Regions from separate parts of the Homo sapiens genome. Here regions 1, 2 and 4 are each linked to region 3. The links come from fine-mapping of genetic effects on plasma protein levels. Region 3 holds a variant in brackets. A gene starts in each other region. All regions are shown on their reverse strands.

Region 1 (5,149 bases), not on the chromosome of region 3:
TGGGAGGCTGAGGCAGGAGAATTGCTTGAACCCAGGAGGTGGAGGTTGCAGTGAGCCAAGATCACACCACTGCACTTCAGCCTGGGCAACGAGACTCCTTCTCAAAAAAAAAAAAAAAAAAATGGAGACTCAGAATGGCTTAAGTGAATTGCCCAAGGCCACACAGCTAGTACCCAACAAAATTCAGATCAGAACGCAGATCTGCCAGCAGCCATTAGCCCAGCCCCAGCTCTCCATCATTGCATTACAAGGGCCACATAAGGAGTCAGTTCTAGTTCCTGGCCACACAGTCCTTGAGAGGAGGCCCTATGTGTGAGGGCTGCGACCTTGAGTCAGAAATCATCTTTTCCCCCTCCTCCTCTCCTGGCACCTGTTCCAACAGTGAGATCACCAAGGCTCCATGCCCAGCCCTGAAGCCTGTCCCTATAGCTTTGGCAGAAATGAGCCTCTGAGTCTTCTGGCAACTGGACCGTCCAAAGGAATCAAGATCTTAGGGTGGGGAGAGGGCTCTTCCTCCCTGGCCTTGTTCTCAGAACAGTCCAGGGAAGGGAGGCAGGGTTTGCACATGGAGAAACAGAGTCCCAGGAAGGAGGGCCTGCCATACTCTACGCACGTGGCAGGCCTCTGGGCTCCTGTGTTGGCTCCTGCAGGCCCACCCTGGACAGGCTGCTGCTGGCTGAAATTCAGTTCGGCACTACTCCTTGGTGTGCAGGGCCTCCTGCCATCCCTCAGAAATTCATTTATACCTCACTTCCTTTGAGAAGTCTACATTGGGCCCTCAGGTCAGGACAGGACAGGACTCCCTTTAGAGGCACCACGCTAGTTTTATGTCTGGCTGCCCAGAGGTGAATGTGTGTCTTGTTCCCTGTTGTCTCTCTCCAAAGCAGGGCCTGGCACAAAGTAGGTGCTTTATTAACTGCTGAATTAATGAGTGAGCTCCTCAGAGCTTCAACTTGTTCACCTTTTTAAAAAGAGAAAATAATACAGTAACACCTACTTCATGGATTTTGCTTTAAAAGTCCAATGAGGCCAGGTGTGGTGGCGTGTGCCTATAGTCCCAGCTGCTGGGGAGGCTAAGGTAGGAGGATCCCCTGAGCCCCGGAGTTTGAGGCTGCAGTGAGCTATGATGGCGTCACAGTACTCCAGCCTGGGAGACACAGCGAGAGACTTTGTCTCTAAAAAATAATAATAAAATAAAAAGTTCAATGAAACAATACACCCAAAGCCCTCAGCATGCAATAAATAGCAAGACAAGGCAGGTCTTATTTTTACTGAAAGTGCTTAGTAAACTATACAGTGACAAACCACCGCACAACAGGCTCTCGAAAGGAGGCAGCAAATTACCCAAAAGTGCAGGCGGCTTGCTAGTGTGCACAGGCCAAAGAAAGGGCGGCAGGTGGGGAAGGCAGCCATGGGCCTTGAAGAGCTGACCGAATTGGCAGAATTTCTGCAGGAGGGGAGCTGGGAACGACCTGAGCTAAAGCTCGGAGCTGTGCGAAGAAACCGGAAAAGCCCAGAGCACTTGCAGGGGCGGGTGGGGAGCTAGATGGTGGGGTGGGGTGGGGACGGAGGAGGGCCAGCAGGAGACATTCCGCAGGGAGGGGCAAGCACGTGTGAGGCGGGCGGGGCGCGAAGGGTCAGGCTTTTGCTCAAAACAGGCAGAGGACAAGGTCAGCTCAGCCGCAGACCGAGCCGCTGGTGACTGTCTCCGCCACCAGGCAGTGAGAGTGAAGGGAGAGCGCGAGCTCTGAAGCCCGCTAGACTAAGCTTGCAATCTGAGCTCCATTCACCCCCTCCTATTTCTTGAGACCTTGTCAGTTCCCCTGTGAGCCTCGGACTCCTCACTTGTAAAACGAGGACAGATGCCCGTGCCAGAAGTCAACCAGAGCTTTCCCCGGCGTGGGCACCAGCCCAAGGGCGTTTTGCTTTTCTAGTCTCATCTCTGCTCTGACGCTAAGCTCAAAGAGGGACTGGGGGACGGGAAGATATCCACCATGGCATGCGCCCTAGCTCTCGGGCTGGTGTTGGCTGCTTCCTTCTCAGATTCCAGAGTGCCTAGAGGCCAGGAAAGGGAGAAGGTCCTACCAGCCTGGGGTAGGGACTCGGGGGCCAGGCACTGGCGCTGACGCAGGCTAGCAGGGCGCCACTGGCTGGTCCCCACCCACCTCGGTGGGTTGGGGGATGGGCGCACCAGCCCCTCCTGGGTGAGCCCTAGCCTGGGGCTTCCTATTTCGGGAGCCGGGGGCGTGGGCCACGTCTCCTCATGTGATGCGAGGGCTATTTAAAGCGGCAGCCCGGGCAGGGAGCCGCCGTCGGAGCCCTTGCACGCCTGCTCTCTTGTAGCTTCTCTCAGCCTAGCCCAGCATCACTATGGTGGACGCTTTCCTGGGCACCTGGAAGCTAGTGGACAGCAAGAATTTCGATGACTACATGAAGTCACTCGGTGAGCAAGCCGCGGGGCTCAGGATGTTGGCTTGGGGACTGGCTGGTGGCGTGCCTAGCCCCACGCAGCACTCCTGCCGCATCCCTCCTGGTTAAGACTGGGGAATAGGGGAGCGCGGAGATGGCAGCCTGGCCTAGAGCAGGTGGGGCCTGTTCAGAGGGGGCTTTGGTGGTCCAAATCTGGTTAGAGACCACGGTAGGGAGGTGGTGGAAGGAGGCAGCTGTGTGGGAGGCTCTTTCCAGGAAGAGGGATATGTGATTTGGAGGTAGGAGGAGGGTTTGGATAAAGAACACTGATCACAGGAAAGGGAGTGTAGCCAGGGGAGAAAAAGAACAGGGGCATGGGTAGTTTAGAAATTGGAGGAGACTGAACCCAGAAAGGGAATGGGGCAGCCAGGGAGTGTACAATGATGTAAACAAGTAGGAAATACCTAGGAGGAAAAAGATTAGTGGGGAAAAAACTGTGGATCAGTGAATCAGATATGAGAAGGACGTAAGACAGGAACCTGCAGTAAGCAGCAATCCCCATCTCTGCTTGGTTAGGGAAGAGAATTCTTGCTGGAGAATGCCCTTTCTCACCAGCCAGTCTGACCTTGTCCTGCAGTCTATGTATCCAGGCCTTCATCACTGTCTGTGAGCCTCGTGGTAGGGTGGGGCAAGAGGCCCATGATCAGCTGGGCCTTTCCTGCAACCCAAGGCTCACCTATCTGTGCGAGGGGTAGGCAGAGAAAGCCATTGGACTTCTGATGTGCAGTAGAGGGTCCCAAGGCAAGGTCAAGACCTGGGAGGGAGGATCACTGGTTTAGGAGGATGTGGAGAACTGCTGTGGTGTTGGGATGGAGAAGAATCAGGATTCAAAGAATCTCACAGGTGAGGAACTTGGAGATTCCCATACCATCTAGTTCAACAGGGAAACTGAAACCAGGAGAGTAGAAATGTATTATAACAATTCCACAGCAGAGCCAATATGAAAATCTAAGGTTTCTAGATCTGTAACCCAGAGCTCTTCCCACTACCCTACAGGCCCTGCGAGTGGGAAGAAAAGTAGAAACTGCTTAGCTAATGATTGACCTCAGCCCTTCTTCTACTGCTTTGGGCTTAGATGGAGAGGTCAAAGCTCTCAACGGCCTCTACCCTATCTTGGGCGCTATGCCCAGTAATTCTAGGCAGGCAGTCATTCTTAGAGGAGCAGCCCCCAGCCCCCACGAACACAGCCCAGCAGCTATTGGGAAGTTGGAATGCCCAGATTTAGTTCCTCCTTCCAAAGCTGGGCCAGAGCTGAGTCTTGAATTGAGCTGCAACAACTTTACCATTCTTGTTCCCTTATTCTGCCCCGAGTTGGGTCAGCGGGCTGGTCTCCCTGAAGTCCTGTTATCTTTCAGCAGCTTATGTTAAGGCAGCCAGCATTCTCATCGTAGGAATGGAAAGCCTGGGAAAATACCCTCCTCAGCTCTCAGTAAGTAGTGCTGGCTTCATTTCTAAGTAGAACCCAGATCTCCCTGAGTCTCCTAAATTCTGTCAGCTCAATATTCTTAGTTTCTCTTGGTTCAGACCCTCACTCATCCCGCAGTGGTTTCCTTTTCAAACACTCCATACCTCTGGGTAGATCCTAAGTGAACAGAGCTCCCAGTGCCGTGACAAGGTCCTGCTCTGTGCAAGGGAGTGTGATTGGCCTGACTCATCCTGATACCAAGGGGCAATGCCAAGTTCCTCACTGGCCAAGCAAGGGTGGGCTGACAGCATAACAGCAGAGGCAGCCCCTGCCCCTCCTGCTGTAGACCTAGGGCTCTCAAGGGGCAAAGAGGTCCCGTCTAGTACCAGTGACCACAGGCACAACTGCTGGCCTGGATTGAGTATGTGCTGGACAGAATCGCCCAGTGAAAATAGTCAACAGTTTTGGAGCCGAGGTTCAAATCTATGTCAGTAGTTTATTCTCTTTGAATTTCGACAAGACACTTCGCACTCTTCATTGTAAACTGGGGATAATCTACGCTTCGAGGCTGTTACAAGCATTAAGTAAAACAACCCATGTAGGGCATGTGCAGAGTACCTAGCTTCCAGCAAGCACTATGTAGCCAGGTACATTTGGAGACTTTACACACACCACCTCACTACACTGGGCTGCCTCCTGCCTCACCTTTGCCTTGGAAGACAGTTCAATGTTAAGCTGCTGGGGGGAGAGGGGGCAGTCATGATTAGTTCTTTGTTCTTTACTTGGTTGCAGGACACTTAGGACTTTGCCCAGTACCCAAGGAAGCCATGCTTGGGTCAGGAAGAGAGTCTCTGTAAAGCCTTAGACTGGGAGTCAGGAGACGGGTTTGAGTCTAACTCATTGTTGCTACCGCTTTAGGCTCCTCCTGAATCTGCACAATAGGACAAATACTTCCTTTGTACCTAACTCCTAGATCATAGATAACAGGCTTTGAAAATGATGGGTTGCCATGTATAAGGGACAAGAGCACTAACACTTCTTAGTTTCAGGGTAAAAACTTCCAAAGTTGGAAAACTCCTATGCCTAAGGCTTTGGAAGGGAAAGTCTATGTTTCTCTTCTTTCCTCAGCCTTATTCCTAAGGCTTTGAGAGCTTTTCAGGTGCCCTGGAAGGCAGCCTTATGCTCCAGCCTTGGGAGGTAGTATAGCTGAGCACTTAAGCAAGCTCTGGACTCAGACAATTCTGGGCTTCAATCTCAGATTTGTGACCCTGGGCT
Region 2 (5,149 bases), not on the chromosome of region 3:
TATTTCACTAAGGAAAGCTTTTCAAGGTACAGTTCCTTTAAGAATCAGTTCTGCTGGTAAGGGAACCAAAAAAATCTCTGTACTTCCTCAATGGATTTTAAATATATCAGTAACTCTTCTTGCCCCAATCCCCATCATCCAAATTTACACTAACCAAAGAATTTATGGGTATAAAATTACTGTCCTGGGTGGAGGAACTCCTACACAGAATAGCAACATGCTTTTATAGCAAAAGAAGATGATGGAGTCTTTAGCATCCATGCTGTTTTATTCAGAAAGAAAAAAATATATATTGGGGGGGTGGGGGCTGAAGTTAAAGATATATTTTCCTCTTTGCAGCTCTATAATTTCATTCCCCATAAAAGAGTGAATCAGACTGAGTTGTCAAATGAAAAGTAAACTTCATCGCCTTTGCGATCAGAATAATTTAATTAGCTTTATTGGCTCTTACAGGCTGTCACCTTATTTATTGGTTTTTCAGCTTTCTTCTCATTTTCAATTAGGCTTTAAAAAAACAAATGCAAAATCATTCACTAAATTCAGAATAATTAAAACAATATTGTGTTTCCAGTTTGGAAACATGGTAGAATGTATTGCTTCTGGGTACACTTCGGAGAGGTTAAAGTGACAGAGCAGATAAAAAGGACACTTAGTACACACGTAAATCATTTGCATTACAAATAAGATACTTTAGCAGGGGTTGGACTCCCTGCCTGACAGTCAGGATTAAGTTCCCATATTAATACATGCATTTGGTGTGGTTATTTTGGGTGAAAGACTTCATCCATCAATGCCCTCTGCCACTAAGTAAGGCCAACCTGTAAACTGATCACCACAGCCTGTCAACACTGGTTACTTAATTATATAAAGAAAATATGTTTAAAAGACTTTTGATAATTTGGTTAGTATTTCAACATCTTTTTCAAGGTTCCTTAAAATAATAGCTAAAGCATTTTTAAGAATTAAAAACTGAAAACTATGACTATTTTTATGTTTCCTGCTAATCTTTCTTTTTCTTTTATTTGCAGAAGGGAAAAATAAAGATTCAGTAAGCATTAATGAAGATGAATATAAATGAAATAATATTTTTAAAAGATATTTTAATTAAAAATTAAATTCAATGCATGCATAGTATTAATTTGTGCTTATTATTATTTATTTTCATAACTACTAATTCCAATTTACTTCTGTTACCAATTGGTAGCTTTAATACACTAATTTTTTTATAGAAAGGAGAAACTTTGTTAGGGAAAACATTTCTTCTAAGGAAGAATATTTTTATACTTTCAGCTTAACTATTCTTAAAGCCTACTACATATTATGAAATTCTCTACAATAAAACTCATGAAAGAACAATCTATTCATGATATTCAGGGACATCCTTTTTTATCAGGTGTTTGGTTTTCTTTCCATGCAAGAATTTAATAACGAACCTCCAAAGGCACTGATAAGAACAAAAAAAACCCTTCGTCTGTATATTTTAAATATGTTTCCATTAAAAAAAGTAGCAAATATGGAAATAATGTCACAAATTCTTTTTTGAAATCTTGATCCAATGTATTAACCATTTGAGAAAATATTTTAAGTCTCCTACTCTCTGCAAATTGCAAATACATGGTAAAAAATTTGTGATTAAATCTAAGAAAATATGCTTGAAAACGTAATCTGTTTACCATCAGCAATTAACATCCTTAAATTACACTTTAAGGATTCTTTACAATTGAATGATAGAATTATCATTTGATAATTTTAGTCAATATCCCTTTAGAAACTATCGTTATCAGAAATTTTTCAATTCAATATACTCTCGCTGTATTTTTCCTCTGGTCTGTTTAATCTAAAAGATCGTTTCCTTAAATCATAGTGATTTTATTTTCTCATCTAGTTAAGATATTTGTTATTTGTTTGAAGATAAATACCAAAATAAACACTTTATTCAGGAGTACAACAAAAAGATTTCTAGATAAGTCTTACCCTCTTTCTTAGTGGGTTCTGGCATGGCCACAATAAGATGTTATTCTTTAAAGAGTCTCCTTCCCTCCACGACTAGTTGACAGAAACCCCACAGGCAGGCGAGAGATGGTGCAGGTCGGTGTGACAAGCAGTTGGGGAGAAACCCAGTGCTTTTATACTGCCTCTGAACATCAATCATGATGGCACCTCCCTTTCTTCAGCACAAGGATGCAGGAACTTGACAGCTATGGGGACCTTTCTCACATCTGTTGTCTGCACTCTGCTCTCTCGCCTACTGGAAGGAATCTCCTGCCCATCTCATGTGGCTGATGAGAACACCTCTAACTTTCTAAATTCAGCTGCAGCCTCGTGCTCCGTCTTGCTCTTCTCTCTCTGACAGATGCATGTGCTGACTCAGGAGTGCAAAAAGTTTGCTGGATGATTAAAAAAACAAATTAAAAATCATAATATGCCAATCCAACCTATACCTTAATTTTCACTAAGATTAGGCAGAAAAGTCTTTGTATTCAGATGATCACTTTTATGCTCCAATTAGCTTTTCATTTTCATCAGTCCTTAATTATTGCATTTATATTTTTTCTTATTCCTCATTGATATGTCAATATTAATTTTTCAAGCCAAATCTCTAGGTTAAATAACTTGTCTCATGTTCTTCTCTAAGAATAGCAAAGATTTCTATTAGGGGATACTCTGCGTTTGCATTTTTTTCCAAAAACATCATTTTTCAAAATTATAGGACATATAAAAGAATGAGGCAATGACACATGCTACAACGTGGATGAAGCTTGAGAACATTACACTAAGTGAAAGAAGTCAGTCAGACATACAAACGTAGACTATAAAATAATAGATCACTGCTGGGCTCATGCCTGCAATCCCAGCACTTTGGGAGGCTGAGGGGGGTGGATCTCCTGAGGTCAGGAGTTCGAGACCAGCCTGAACAACATAAAGAAACCCCGTCTCTACTAAAAATACAAAATTAGCTGGGCATGGTGGTGCATGCCTGTAATCCCAGCTACTCGGGAGGCTGAGACAGGAGAATCACTTGAACCCAGGAGGCGGAGGTTGTGGTGAGCCGAGATTGTACCATTGCACTCCAGCCTATGCAACAAGAGCGAAACTCCATCTCAAATTAATAATAATAATAATAAAAAATAATAGAACACACATTGTACAATTCCACTTATATGAAATATCTAGGACAGGCAAATCCATATGGTGAGAAAGTATATCAGTGTTTGCCAGTGGCCTAAGGGAGGTGGAATTGGGAGTGACTGCCAGTGCATATGGGGTTTCTTTTGGTCATGATGAAAATGTTCTGGCATTAGATAGTGGTGATGGTTGTACAACTTTGTGAATATATTAAAAACCACTGGATTATACACTTAAAAATATATATGGAGGCTGGGTGCAGTGCTGGGGCCTATAATCCCAGCATTTTGGGAGGCCAAGGTGGGAAGATCACTTGAAGCCAGGAGTTGGAGACCAGCCTGGGTAACAAACCAAGACCCTGTCTCTACAAAAAATAAAAATAAAATAAAAAGATATATATGGGGCCTGGGCAAAGAAAGTCAAATAGACTAGTAGCTATTGTTTTGATTCAAGTGATTCAATTGGAGGGTACACAAATCTAACTTAAGATGTTGAAAGACTGTAGTAGATGTGGTCACTTTCTCCCAAAACGCTCATGGAACTGATAGAGAAATAGGAACTACCAAGTAGTCAACCTGAAGAAGACACCTTACTTTCTTTGTTCACATGCACTAGGACTAACCTGAGTTTATATGAAAAGACAACTACACACATGCCTTTATTGGTGTGTGTTTTCAAGATAATTTTCAAAAACTTTGATTGATTGGTACTGAAGCAGCCACACTGTCTCGTCTAATTTCCCTTGTGGCTGAGAGTGCAGCTGGTCAGACTTAGCTCTACCAAACTCTGTGCCAAGCTGACTTTTCATATAAGGGTGGAAACTAGACTTAGAACTCAATAGCATCATGCTTTAGTTATGTGGCGGGGAGGGGGAGGAAGCCAGTCAAGATGGTAATGAACATCTTTTATAAAGACAGCCCCTCCTTAACCACATTATACTACTGAACACATTTTTGTACTTTAAAAAAAAAAAACGTTCCTTTGCTGAGTCCGCTCTGGGGATATCAATTAATAGATGAAACATATGAAAGAACCTAGAATCTGAAGTTGGTCCCTTGGGTTCTATTTCTGGATCTATCATTAACCAGCTTAGTTACTCTGAGAAAGTCAGGGGGCTTTCTGGGCCTCAGTTTCTTTTTGTGTAAAATGAGGGGCTTAAAAAAAATGATCTTGGAGGCTGCTGATAGGTTTAACACTGTGATTCTACTTGGGAAATCTCTAAGAGAGAATTGTTTTTTTCAGCATTCCCAGCACACTGAACACCACATATGAAATGGACATAGGGCAGAGTGTCATGTTGCATAAGAATGTTTACAGCGAAGGGCAGATTTCACACATGCCACAAAAGAGGTGCCATGCCATCATTGGCTTCTGCAGAAACCCCATTGGGTTTTTAATACACTGATCGTCTTACTGAAGTGAACATATGCCAGGAAATATTGCAATCCACAGAGAAAGTATTTTATGACCTGGGGAACTTTTTGGTAATAAAGGAATTAATTATAAAAAGGCAAAGCATTATTATAGGAATTGGAAGTATGGACAAATTCTAGGACAAATTATTGTACAGTGTATCAGGTGGTTAAGGTAAAATTTTAAATTAGGATAACAAGTAGACTTGTGTAATTTTCCTAGGGCTATATTGTTTTAGGAATACATAACTCCTATTTCAGATCTTATGCATTCATCTAGAAGGTTGCAGATGCCTTAGCTGTACTCTCAGGAAAGACAGGGGGATGGTCAACAGGCTTTTGTTTCTTTTGCTAAATGCTGTATTAGATTTTTCCTTTTGTATTATTGAGGATGAAGTTTGTTCAAATACAACACAAAACTACAAAATACCAACAGTTGAATCAAGATAGAAGTATTTCTCCCTCATATAAAGCAAGTCTAAAAGCAAATGGCTTAGAGTCATACAGTGGCTTCACAGTGTATCCAGGAAACCAGACTCCTCCTTCTTGCTCTACCATCCTCCTGGTAACCTCATGGTCCAAAATAGCTGTGTATCTTCTAGACACTACAT
Region 3 (5,149 bases):
GATGGTGGTAGTGAAATTCTTGGATATGTTCTTGAGAAACGGGATAAAGAAGGCATTAGATGGACAAGATGCCATAAGCGTCTGATTGGAGAGTTGCGCCTGAGAGTAACTGGACTCATAGAAAATCACGATTATGAGTTCAGAGTTTCTGCTGAGAATGCTGCTGGACTTAGTGAACCAAGCCCTCCTTCTGCTTACCAAAAGGCTTGTGATCCTATTTATAAACCAGGACCCCCAAACAACCCCAAAGTCATAGACATAACCAGATCTTCAGTATTCCTTTCTTGGAGCAAACCAATATATGATGGTGGCTGTGAAATTCAAGGATACATTGTTGAAAAATGTGATGTGAGTGTTGGTGAATGGACAATGTGCACTCCACCAACAGGAATTAATAAAACAAACATAGAAGTAGAGAAGCTGTTGGAAAAGCATGAATACAACTTCCGTATCTGTGCTATTAATAAAGCTGGAGTTGGAGAACATGCTGACGTCCCTGGACCTATTATAGTTGAAGAAAAATTAGAAGCACCAGACATTGATCTTGACCTAGAACTAAGGAAAATCATAAATATAAGGGCAGGTGGCTCCTTAAGGTTATTTGTTCCTATAAAAGGTCGTCCTACACCAGAAGTTAAATGGGGAAAGGTGGATGGTGAAATCCGAGATGCAGCTATAATTGATGTCACTAGCAGTTTCACCTCTCTTGTTCTTGACAATGTCAACCGATATGATAGTGGAAAATATACGCTTACATTAGAAAACAGCAGTGGAACAAAGTCTGCCTTTGTTACTGTGAGAGTTCTGGACACGCCAAGTCCACCTGTTAACCTGAAAGTCACAGAAATCACCAAAGACTCAGTATCAATTACATGGGAACCTCCTTTGTTGGATGGGGGATCCAAAATAAAAAATTACATTGTTGAGAAACGTGAAGCCACAAGAAAATCATATGCTGCTGTTGTAACTAACTGCCATAAGAATTCTTGGAAAATCGATCAGCTCCAAGAAGGTTGCAGTTATTACTTTAGAGTCACAGCTGAGAATGAGTATGGTATTGGCCTTCCTGCCCAGACTGCTGATCCAATTAAGGTTGCAGAAGTGCCACAACCTCCTGGAAAAATAACTGTGGATGATGTCACCAGAAACAGTGTCTCTCTGAGTTGGACAAAACCTGAACATGATGGTGGCAGTAAAATCATTCAGTATATTGTGGAAATGCAAGCTAAACACAGTGAGAAATGGTCAGAGTGTGCTCGAGTAAAGTCTCTTCAGGCAGTAATTACCAACCTAACTCAAGGGGAAGAATATCTTTTTAGAGTTGTTGCTGTAAATGAAAAGGGGAGAAGTGATCCTCGGTCCCTTGCAGTTCCAATAGTTGCCAAAGATCTGGTAATTGAGCCAGATGTAAAACCTGCATTCAGTAGTTACAGTGTACAGGTTGGCCAAGATTTGAAAATAGAAGTGCCAATTTCTGGACGTCCTAAGCCAACCATTACCTGGACTAAAGATGGTCTCCCACTGAAGCAGACCACAAGAATCAATGTTACCGATTCACTGGATCTCACCACACTCAGTATTAAAGAAACTCATAAGGATGATGGTGGACAATATGGAATCACAGTTGCCAATGTTGTTGGTCAGAAGACAGCATCCATCGAAATTGTAACTCTAGATAAACCTGATCCTCCAAAAGGACCTGTTAAATTTGATGACGTCAGTGCTGAAAGTATTACATTATCTTGGAACCCTCCATTATATACAGGGGGCTGCCAAATCACCAACTACATTGTTCAGAAAAGAGATACAACCACCACAGTATGGGATGTTGTTTCTGCTACTGTTGCTAGAACTACACTCAAAGTGACCAAACTGAAAACTGGTACAGAATACCAATTTAGAATATTTGCCGAAAACAGATATGGACAAAGCTTTGCCTTAGAGTCTGATCCAATTGTAGCTCAATATCCCTACAAAGAACCAGGCCCTCCAGGTACACCATTTGCCACAGCCATTTCCAAAGACTCCATGGTCATACAGTGGCATGAACCAGTCAACAATGGTGGAAGCCCCGTCATAGGTTACCACCTGGAGAGAAAAGAAAGAAACAGTATTTTGTGGACAAAGGTCAACAAAACTATTATTCATGACACCCAATTCAAAGCACAGAATCTTGAAGAAGGCATTGAATATGAATTCAGAGTGTATGCTGAAAATATTGTTGGTGTAGGCAAAGCAAGCAAGAATTCTGAATGCTATGTAGCCAGAGATCCCTGTGACCCACCAGGAACCCCAGAACCAATAATGGTTAAAAGAAATGAAATCACTTTACAGTGGACCAAACCTGTGTATGATGGTGGAAGTATGATTACAGGCTACATTGTAGAGAAACGTGATTTGCCTGATGGTCGTTGGATGAAAGCTAGCTTTACAAATGTCATTGAAACTCAATTTACTGTGTCAGGTCTTACTGAAGATCAAAGATATGAATTCAGAGTCATTGCAAAGAATGCAGCTGGTGCAATAAGTAAACCCTCTGACAGTACTGGACCAATAACTGCCAAGGATGAGGTTGAACTCCCAAGAATTTCAATGGATCCAAAATTCAGAGACACAATTGTGGTAAATGCTGGAGAAACATTCAGACTTGAGGCTGATGTCCATGGAAAGCCCCTACCTACCA[T/C]TGAGTGGTTAAGAGGAGATAAGGAAATTGAAGAATCTGCTAGATGTGAAATAAAGAACACAGATTTCAAGGCTTTACTTATTGTAAAAGATGCAATTAGAATTGATGGTGGGCAGTATATTTTAAGAGCTTCCAATGTTGCAGGTTCTAAGTCATTCCCAGTAAATGTAAAAGTATTAGATAGACCAGGACCTCCAGAAGGGCCAGTCCAGGTTACTGGAGTCACTTCTGAAAAATGCTCTTTAACATGGTCTCCACCACTTCAAGATGGTGGCAGTGACATTTCTCACTATGTTGTTGAAAAGCGAGAAACCAGTCGACTTGCCTGGACTGTTGTTGCTTCAGAAGTTGTGACCAATTCTCTGAAAGTTACCAAACTCTTAGAAGGTAATGAATATGTTTTCCGTATAATGGCTGTCAACAAATATGGTGTTGGAGAGCCTTTGGAATCTGCACCAGTACTAATGAAAAATCCATTTGTGCTTCCTGGACCACCAAAAAGCTTGGAAGTCACAAATATTGCCAAAGACTCCATGACCGTCTGTTGGAACCGTCCAGATAGTGATGGTGGAAGTGAGATTATTGGTTACATTGTAGAGAAAAGAGACAGAAGTGGCATTCGATGGATAAAATGTAATAAACGCCGCATTACAGATTTGCGTCTAAGAGTGACAGGATTAACAGAAGATCATGAGTATGAATTCAGGGTCTCTGCAGAAAATGCTGCTGGAGTTGGGGAACCAAGTCCAGCTACAGTTTATTATAAAGCCTGTGATCCTGTGTTCAAACCTGGCCCACCTACCAATGCACACATTGTAGACACCACTAAAAATTCAATCACACTTGCCTGGGGTAAACCCATCTATGATGGCGGCAGTGAGATCTTGGGATATGTAGTAGAAATCTGTAAAGCAGATGAAGAAGAATGGCAAATAGTTACTCCACAGACTGGCCTGAGAGTCACTCGATTTGAAATTTCAAAACTCACTGAACACCAAGAGTATAAAATACGAGTCTGTGCCCTCAACAAAGTTGGTTTAGGTGAGGCTACATCAGTTCCTGGTACTGTGAAACCAGAAGATAAACTTGAAGCACCTGAACTTGACCTTGACTCCGAATTAAGAAAAGGAATTGTTGTAAGAGCTGGTGGATCTGCCAGAATTCACATTCCATTCAAAGGTCGTCCAACGCCTGAGATCACTTGGTCTCGAGAGGAAGGTGAATTCACAGATAAGGTCCAAATTGAAAAGGGAGTAAACTATACCCAACTATCAATAGATAACTGTGATAGAAATGATGCTGGAAAATACATTCTTAAGTTGGAAAACAGCAGTGGATCAAAGTCTGCTTTTGTAACTGTGAAAGTTCTTGACACTCCAGGACCACCACAGAATTTGGCAGTCAAAGAAGTGAGAAAAGATTCTGCCTTCCTGGTATGGGAGCCACCCATCATTGATGGAGGGGCAAAGGTCAAGAACTATGTGATTGACAAACGTGAGTCAACCAGAAAAGCGTATGCTAATGTGAGTAGTAAATGCAGCAAAACAAGTTTTAAAGTGGAAAACCTTACAGAAGGAGCCATTTATTACTTCAGAGTCATGGCTGAAAATGAATTTGGAGTTGGTGTTCCAGTGGAAACTGTTGATGCCGTGAAAGCTGCTGAACCTCCTTCCCCACCAGGAAAGGTTACACTCACTGATGTGTCCCAGACCAGTGCATCACTTATGTGGGAGAAACCTGAACATGATGGCGGTAGCAGAGTCCTGGGGTACGTTGTTGAAATGCAGCCCAAAGGAACTGAAAAATGGAGCATTGTGGCTGAATCCAAAGTCTGTAATGCAGTTGTTACTGGTTTGAGTTCTGGACAAGAATATCAGTTCCGTGTCAAGGCTTATAATGAGAAAGGAAAAAGCGATCCAAGAGTGTTGGGTGTTCCTGTCATAGCCAAGGACTTGACTATACAGCCTAGTTTAAAGTTACCATTTAACACATATAGTATCCAAGCTGGAGAAGATCTTAAAATAGAAATTCCAGTTATAGGCCGACCAAGACCTAACATTTCTTGGGTCAAAGATGGTGAGCCTCTTAAACAGACAACAAGAGTAAACGTTGAAGAAACAGCTACCTCAACTGTTTTGCACATTAAAGAAGGTAACAAAGATGACTTTGGAAAATACACCGTAACGGCAACAAATAGTGCAGGCACAGCAACAGAAAATCTCAGTGTTATCGTTTTAGAAAAGCCTGGACCTCCAGTTGGCCCAGTTCGGTTTGATGAAGTTAGTGCAGACTTTGTAGTCATATCTTGGGAACCTCCAGCCTATACTGGTGGCTGCCAAATAAGCAACTACATTGTAGAGAAGCGAGATACAACCACCACCACTTGGCACATGGTATCAGCAACAGTTGCAAGAACAACAATTAAAATAACCAAACTGAAAACAGGCACGGAGTACCAGTTTAGAA
Region 4 (5,149 bases), not on the chromosome of region 3:
GCAGTTGTTATAGGTTTGAGGGTGGGCCTGTGGGTGAGTCCTGGGGCACTGTTGTTCCCAAGCCAGCAGGGACATGCCCAGAATCAGAGCTCAGGCAGTCACCATCCTGGCCCTAGCCTTCATCTGGGTCCTGATGAGGGAGTGAGGATGGCTCTGTGCACCCTGTCCCTGCTGCAGGACCACGTTTGCCCTGTGTGTGACAGGAGGGGCCCAAGCCACTGCCTTGACTCTGCCACACACAGGTGGAGGAAGGTGGCACTATGTGGCTCTGGCTGGCTGCATGAGCCTGCCCATCCCAGATCACAGACCTGGACACTGAGGCCCAGGATGCTCTTGTCACTGGCTTACCCCCATTTGGGCCAACGTTGGGTGGTTTCCAAGGGGTGGTAATTGTGTGAGGATGAAAGAAATGAGATGGGAGAGAGGGCCCTGTATATGTCCTCTGCTCTGGCCCTCTGCTTCCCTCATGATGAACACAAGGAAATTGGTCTTGTTGGCGGTGTCTGTGGGTGGCTGGGGCTCCCGTGTGACTTCCAGAGCCCGTTGTCCTGAGGGTCGGCAGGCCTGGGTGGTGGGGCCTCCCCGGGGCCCCTCTGTGTGGCCCTCTGGCTGTCTTCTCCTCTTGTGGTATTTCTGGCTCGTCTCCACTGACCATCCCCCCACCCCTTTCTTTCTCAATACTGTTGCCAAACATTTGGAAGAAAAGTGAAAAACTTGCCCCCCCGCCAGTCCCGGATGTTGTCAGATTTCCAGATGTGGGTGTTCTGCCCTCCAGATGAGAGGCAGAACGTGTTCCAGTCAGGAGCGGGCTGGCCCCAGCCCTGGACTGCTGTCCCTCCCTGTGAGGCGGAGTGACAGGATGAGAGGGACTGGGCCCAGTAGGAAGACAGCAGGGCGTGCCAGGTAGAGGCCCTGGGCCCCACAGCACCTCTCAGCCTCAGGCTTAGCCCCTTGCCACACCAGGGAAATCCCTGGCTTTGAAGTTTCTATCAAAGGCTCCAGGCACTTAAAAGTAACCAGGAGCACCTCCTTCCCACCCCCCAGGCACAGATGCTGGGCAAGGAACAGAGCCCAATGTGTTTACAAGATGTCCCCACTGTTGGCGTCCCCATGCGGGAAGAGCCTTGTGCCACCTCAGCCCTCCCACCTCCCCAAGTGGCAGTCCCGTCAGGCTGTACTCTGTCACTGTCATCTGCTGAAGGCTGGGCTTGGGATGGACCCTGGGGGCCGGGCACTGCAGGATGGGCACTGGGGGTGGGCACTGAGTGGTAGGAACAGGGAATGAGCATCACTGCACTGGGGCAGACCCTGCTTGGCAGCTTGGGGTTCCTCAGAGAGGCAGACCCTCTCAGAGCCCCTGCCAAAAGGGTCGGCAGAGGGCAACATGTGGCAGTGGAATAGCATTGGAGAGAGCTTTCTGGAAGAGGGCCAGTAGAGCCAAGCCTTGAATATGTCAGGCAGAGGGGGCGAGGGCACTCTGGGCAGAGGGTGCAGTGGGGAGCCAGGCCTGGGGTGTGTAGGGAAATGTGCATCCCTGGGGCCTGTAGAGAGGGGAAGTAGGAATCTAGGGGTGAAAGCTGAGAAACTGGTCCCTGGGCCAGCAGGGGCTGAAGAGGGAGGCTGCTGAACTGGCCTGGGGCGACTGCCCTAGAGGGAGCAGCATCCTTTCTCTTGCCCTTTGTGGGGGTTCCTGGAGACCCTTGGACCCATAGCCAGGGCTACAGCTGCCTGCCATGACCAGACACTCACATACAGACACATGTAAACACCCAGACATAAACACACAGAAGCAACACCCGCAGACACACTCACATAGACACATAGACACACCACGCACACATAAAGACCCAGACCCACAGAGACAAATGCAGACACCCGGGCCATCCCTTACATAGACACAGATACGGAGCACACATAGGCACGCACAGAGCCCCCCACCACGGAGGCACCCAGACAATACACACAGGTGTACACAGACCCCCCTCCACACAAACACAGACACAGAGAGACCCACAGACACATAGACACCCCGACACAGACACAGACAACACACACAGACACATGCTGACTTCCGCCTTCCCCCACATGGACACGGTCATAGACACAGACACAGACACAGGGGACTTTGGAGAGCTTAAGTTCAGAGGTGCCCTTAGATCATCCCAGTCCTTCTGGCCCCAACACAACACGTAGCATGTACTTGGTCCACCCTTCTTCACCTCTTCAACTTACGGACCTGCAGAGAGGCAGCAGGGCCCTGTGTGGGTATGTGCGGGTGTGCAGATGAGTGTGTGTGTATGTGTGTATGTGTGTGTTAAGCAGTGGCCTTTGTCCCCCTCTCTCCCTCCCCCTTCCCAACAGGTGATTGGGAGGAATGGAGATCCCTCCTCCACTACCCATTCCTGAGCCTGAACAATGCCCTCCCCAGGCCCCAAAATAGCCCCTAAGCCTAGCCATATCCTTTTATGGCCCTGTCCCTATTGTGCACTGCAGGGGTGGGGCTGGGGTCATGAGGTATCCGGGCAGGATAAAGGCCTGGGTGAGGCGGCTCACCTACCCTGCTTTCTGCATTCTTCTCTCCACATCCCTCTCTGTACTTACAGCCCCCAATGGCCCCCAAAAAGCCAGAGCCCAAGAAGGATGATGCCAAGGCAGCCCCCAAGGCAGCTCCAGCTCCCGCACCTCCCCCTGAGCCTGAGCGCCCTAAGGAGGTCGAGTTTGATGCTTCCAAGATCAAGGTGGGTATGGAAGCTGGGTGGTGGCAATAGGAGCAGGGCAAGTGAGTGGATCCCAGAGTGGACCTAGCAAGAGGCAGGTCAGGCTCTGGAGGTGAGCACTGAGCTGACGCTGGAAGCTTCTGTGCAGAGGTCAGACAAGCCCTGACTGCTTCAGGCATCAGAAGGGCTGCAGCAGGAGGGATGGTGGTCAGACGTTCTGCAGGACTCCTCTGGTGCTGCTGAGAACTAAGGTGGAGTCTAGACTGGGGTTTGAGTCTGGACTGTCTTTTTAGTGGTTTTGGAAATGGACTCTCCCTTGCCCTTCTTCCTGGACTTCTCATCCTTGGGGAATCCTGGAGTCAGCTGGAGCCAGGCAGGGATTTTCCTTGTTCAGCTGAGGGGTCCCAAGTCCATACACGCTCCCAGCGTGGATGAGATAGGGAGTAAGAAGAAGCAGGGCCCCTGTCCAGGCTGGGTCTCGTTCAAATCACCGAGCCCAGAGCTGGTAGAGCACTTCCAGGCCTCAGCTTTTAGGTAGGGAACTTGAAGCATCAGCTGGCTGGGGACATTCTGAAAGCTGTGCAGGAAGCTGGTCATGGAGCTATGACCAGTGGCCCCAGGAGCCCTTCCCCAACTGCAAAGTCTTTCTCAGAGTCTAAACTTGGAGGGAGCCATGACTCCCACCTGTGGTATCTGCATAGCAGCACGTACCCTGTGTCCTGCCTGCTCCCTGTTCTTGGCTGGGACCACTGCTGCCCTGGCTGCCTCCTCAGGAGCCCTGTGGAACCCTCGCCATCCCTGCATGCCCAGCAGGACCTACATTCCATCGGTGAAGTCTTGCCTCCTGTTCATGAGCCCTTCCCAGAGACACCTACCATGTCCTTTGAGGCAAGGGTTCAAATCCCAACTCTGCTCCATTTTAGTTGCCAAGTTCTTCGCTGCTCTGAGGCGTGGTTTCCTCAGCTGTGAAACAGAACAGCAAGTCCCCTCTTGCAGGGCTGCTGGGAACCATTCAGAGTATATGCACCTGGAGTTGGCCACCCAGGTCCCAGGCTTGCATTCTGCAGGCCTCATGGTGAGGCTGTGACCACAGCCACGGCCCATAGTGGCATTGTCCTTTCTCGCCAGGCCTTAGGTTGGCACAGACTTCCTTCTGAGAGGTGGGGACAATGAGACCCCTCATGCGCCCTCTTCCCCCATCCCCAGGTTGCAGGTAAAGGGCAGGGAGCCTTTGCCAGGAGCCCAGAGACCCTAATCTCAGTAGGCTTCCTGGTGGAGAGAGCTCTCAGGGAGCCAGGAATGACAACCTGTTCTTCCCAACACTGGGTCAAGCCAGAAGCCAGGAGGGACAGTCATGGTAGGGTGGCCCTGAACAGGGTGTCCCTCTGTGCCGGCATGCACTGTGGAGATTGGTGGGGCTCCGTGGCAGCAGCCATGAGAGAGACGCCAGTCATGCCCCTCCCCCAACCTCCTTTCCCTTGTGTGACCTTGACCTTGGGGCGAGTGACTGCAGTGATAAAAATAGACCTGGTATCCGGTGAGGAGGGGGACACTGGATCCCGGGAGGCCTCTTGATTGACGTCAATCAAGGTGGCCCCAATGTGACTTCAGCAAACACTCAGCAGCACTGCCCTGGCCCTGTGCTGTCCTGGGGTGTGGGAGCTTCCCAGGGACCTACGGACAGGGTGTGTGAGAAATAGGTATAGTGGGGCTGGTGAGTGACTGCCTGGTCTTTAGGGCTTAGGGGGCTCTGTGAGGGCAGACGTATGTAGACACATGCTCACACACAAACATGCACACTTGTGCTCACCCTCGATGCTTCCAGCCACCAGCCCTCGGCCTGTACCATTGCCCTTACTCCTTCTACCACCCTGGGCCCTCCCATCTCACTTTTGCTGACAGTCCTGCCCACCAGGCCCCAAGCAAAGCCAGCCTGACTGGGGCTTGTGGCTTAAGGTACATCTGTCCAGAACCGGGAGCATCAGGTAAGGCCCACGCTGGCCTGAGGCCTTGGGCATGTGGCCTCCCTCCTCACTGCTACCCCTGCCAGGGTCCACCGAGCATCAGGGCCTCGGTGCACACAGCCTCAAGGCCTTCTGGCTGGAGAGGTGGAGGGGGGCAAGGAGGCAGGAGGGCGTCAAGATGGACTGCAGGAGGTCCTGGGGGTGCAGGCTGGGATGCTGGAATGGGACAGGCTGAGACAGTTGACATTCTGGGCTGGCCACCGAGTGCCCAGGAGGAGGTGTGGCCCCACCTTTTAAGCCGGGCATCTGAGTCTTTGGGGTCTCTTTTCAGATTGAGTTCACACCTGAGCAGATTGAAGGTGAGCAGGGGTCTTGAACCCAGGGGTTGCAGGATTGGGCTGGGGTTCCCTGGTCTGAGGGTCCTGCCAGGGGTGTGGGGAGTGGGGTAGGCTGACCCTGGGAGTGTCT

Alleles and levels. Positions count from the first base shown, and alleles are read on the strand shown. Strength reflects both the effect of a copy and how common the allele is.
For the plasma level of the protein whose gene starts at base 2,309 in region 1, C is the high allele of the variant in region 3 and T is the other (weak association).
With allele T in place of C in region 3, the plasma level of the protein whose gene starts at base 2,099 in region 2 is lower (weak association).
As copies of C replace T in region 3, the plasma level of the protein whose gene starts at base 2,556 in region 4 goes up (weak association).

What was found. A credible set is the group of variants that fine-mapping cannot tell apart. PIP is the chance, under the fine-mapping model, that this variant and not a neighbour inherited with it causes the effect. Protein levels are from antibody-based Olink assays in UK Biobank. Linkage for the fine-mapping came from a reference panel and not from the study's own genotypes, which makes the PIPs less certain.
Region 1: it holds the start of FABP3, and the variant in region 3 is the best candidate, but not a certain one, in a credible set for the plasma level of the FABP3 protein (UK Biobank, PIP 0.54).
Region 2: it holds the start of MYBPC1, and the variant in region 3 is the best candidate, but not a certain one, in a credible set for the plasma level of the MYBPC1 protein (UK Biobank, PIP 0.78).
Region 4: it holds the start of MYL3, and the variant in region 3 is the best candidate, but not a certain one, in a credible set for the plasma level of the MYL3 protein (UK Biobank, PIP 0.74).

Annotation. Positions count from the first base shown.
Region 1 is chr1:31,370,236-31,375,384 of GRCh38, reverse strand. FABP3 (fatty acid binding protein 3) reads left to right here and starts at 2,309. Exons shown (of 4, transcript NM_004102.5): 1 at 2,309-2,443. The coding sequence starts at 2,371. LOC124903892 (a long non-coding RNA gene) reads right to left here and starts at 1,086. Exons shown (of 2, transcript XR_007065573.1): 1 at 998-1,086. RefSeq lists a silencer at 1,829-2,123.
Region 2 is chr12:101,591,921-101,597,069 of GRCh38, reverse strand. MYBPC1 (myosin binding protein C1) reads right to left here and starts at 2,099. Exons shown (of 32, transcript NM_002465.4): 1 at 1,975-2,099. The coding sequence starts at 1,999.
Region 3 is chr2:178,564,993-178,570,141 of GRCh38, reverse strand. TTN (titin) reads left to right here. Exons shown (of 363, transcript NM_001267550.2): 326 at 1-5,149. All of the region lies in intron 1 of TTN-AS1 (TTN antisense RNA 1), which reads right to left. Among named protein-coding and RNA genes, the nearest start is that of TTN-AS1, 44 kb to the right of the region's middle. The variant T/C (reference allele first, on the strand shown) is at 2,684.
Region 4 is chr3:46,860,851-46,865,999 of GRCh38, reverse strand. MYL3 (myosin light chain 3) reads left to right here and starts at 2,556. Exons shown (of 7, transcript NM_000258.3): 1 at 2,556-2,738; 2 at 5,013-5,040. The coding sequence starts at 2,610.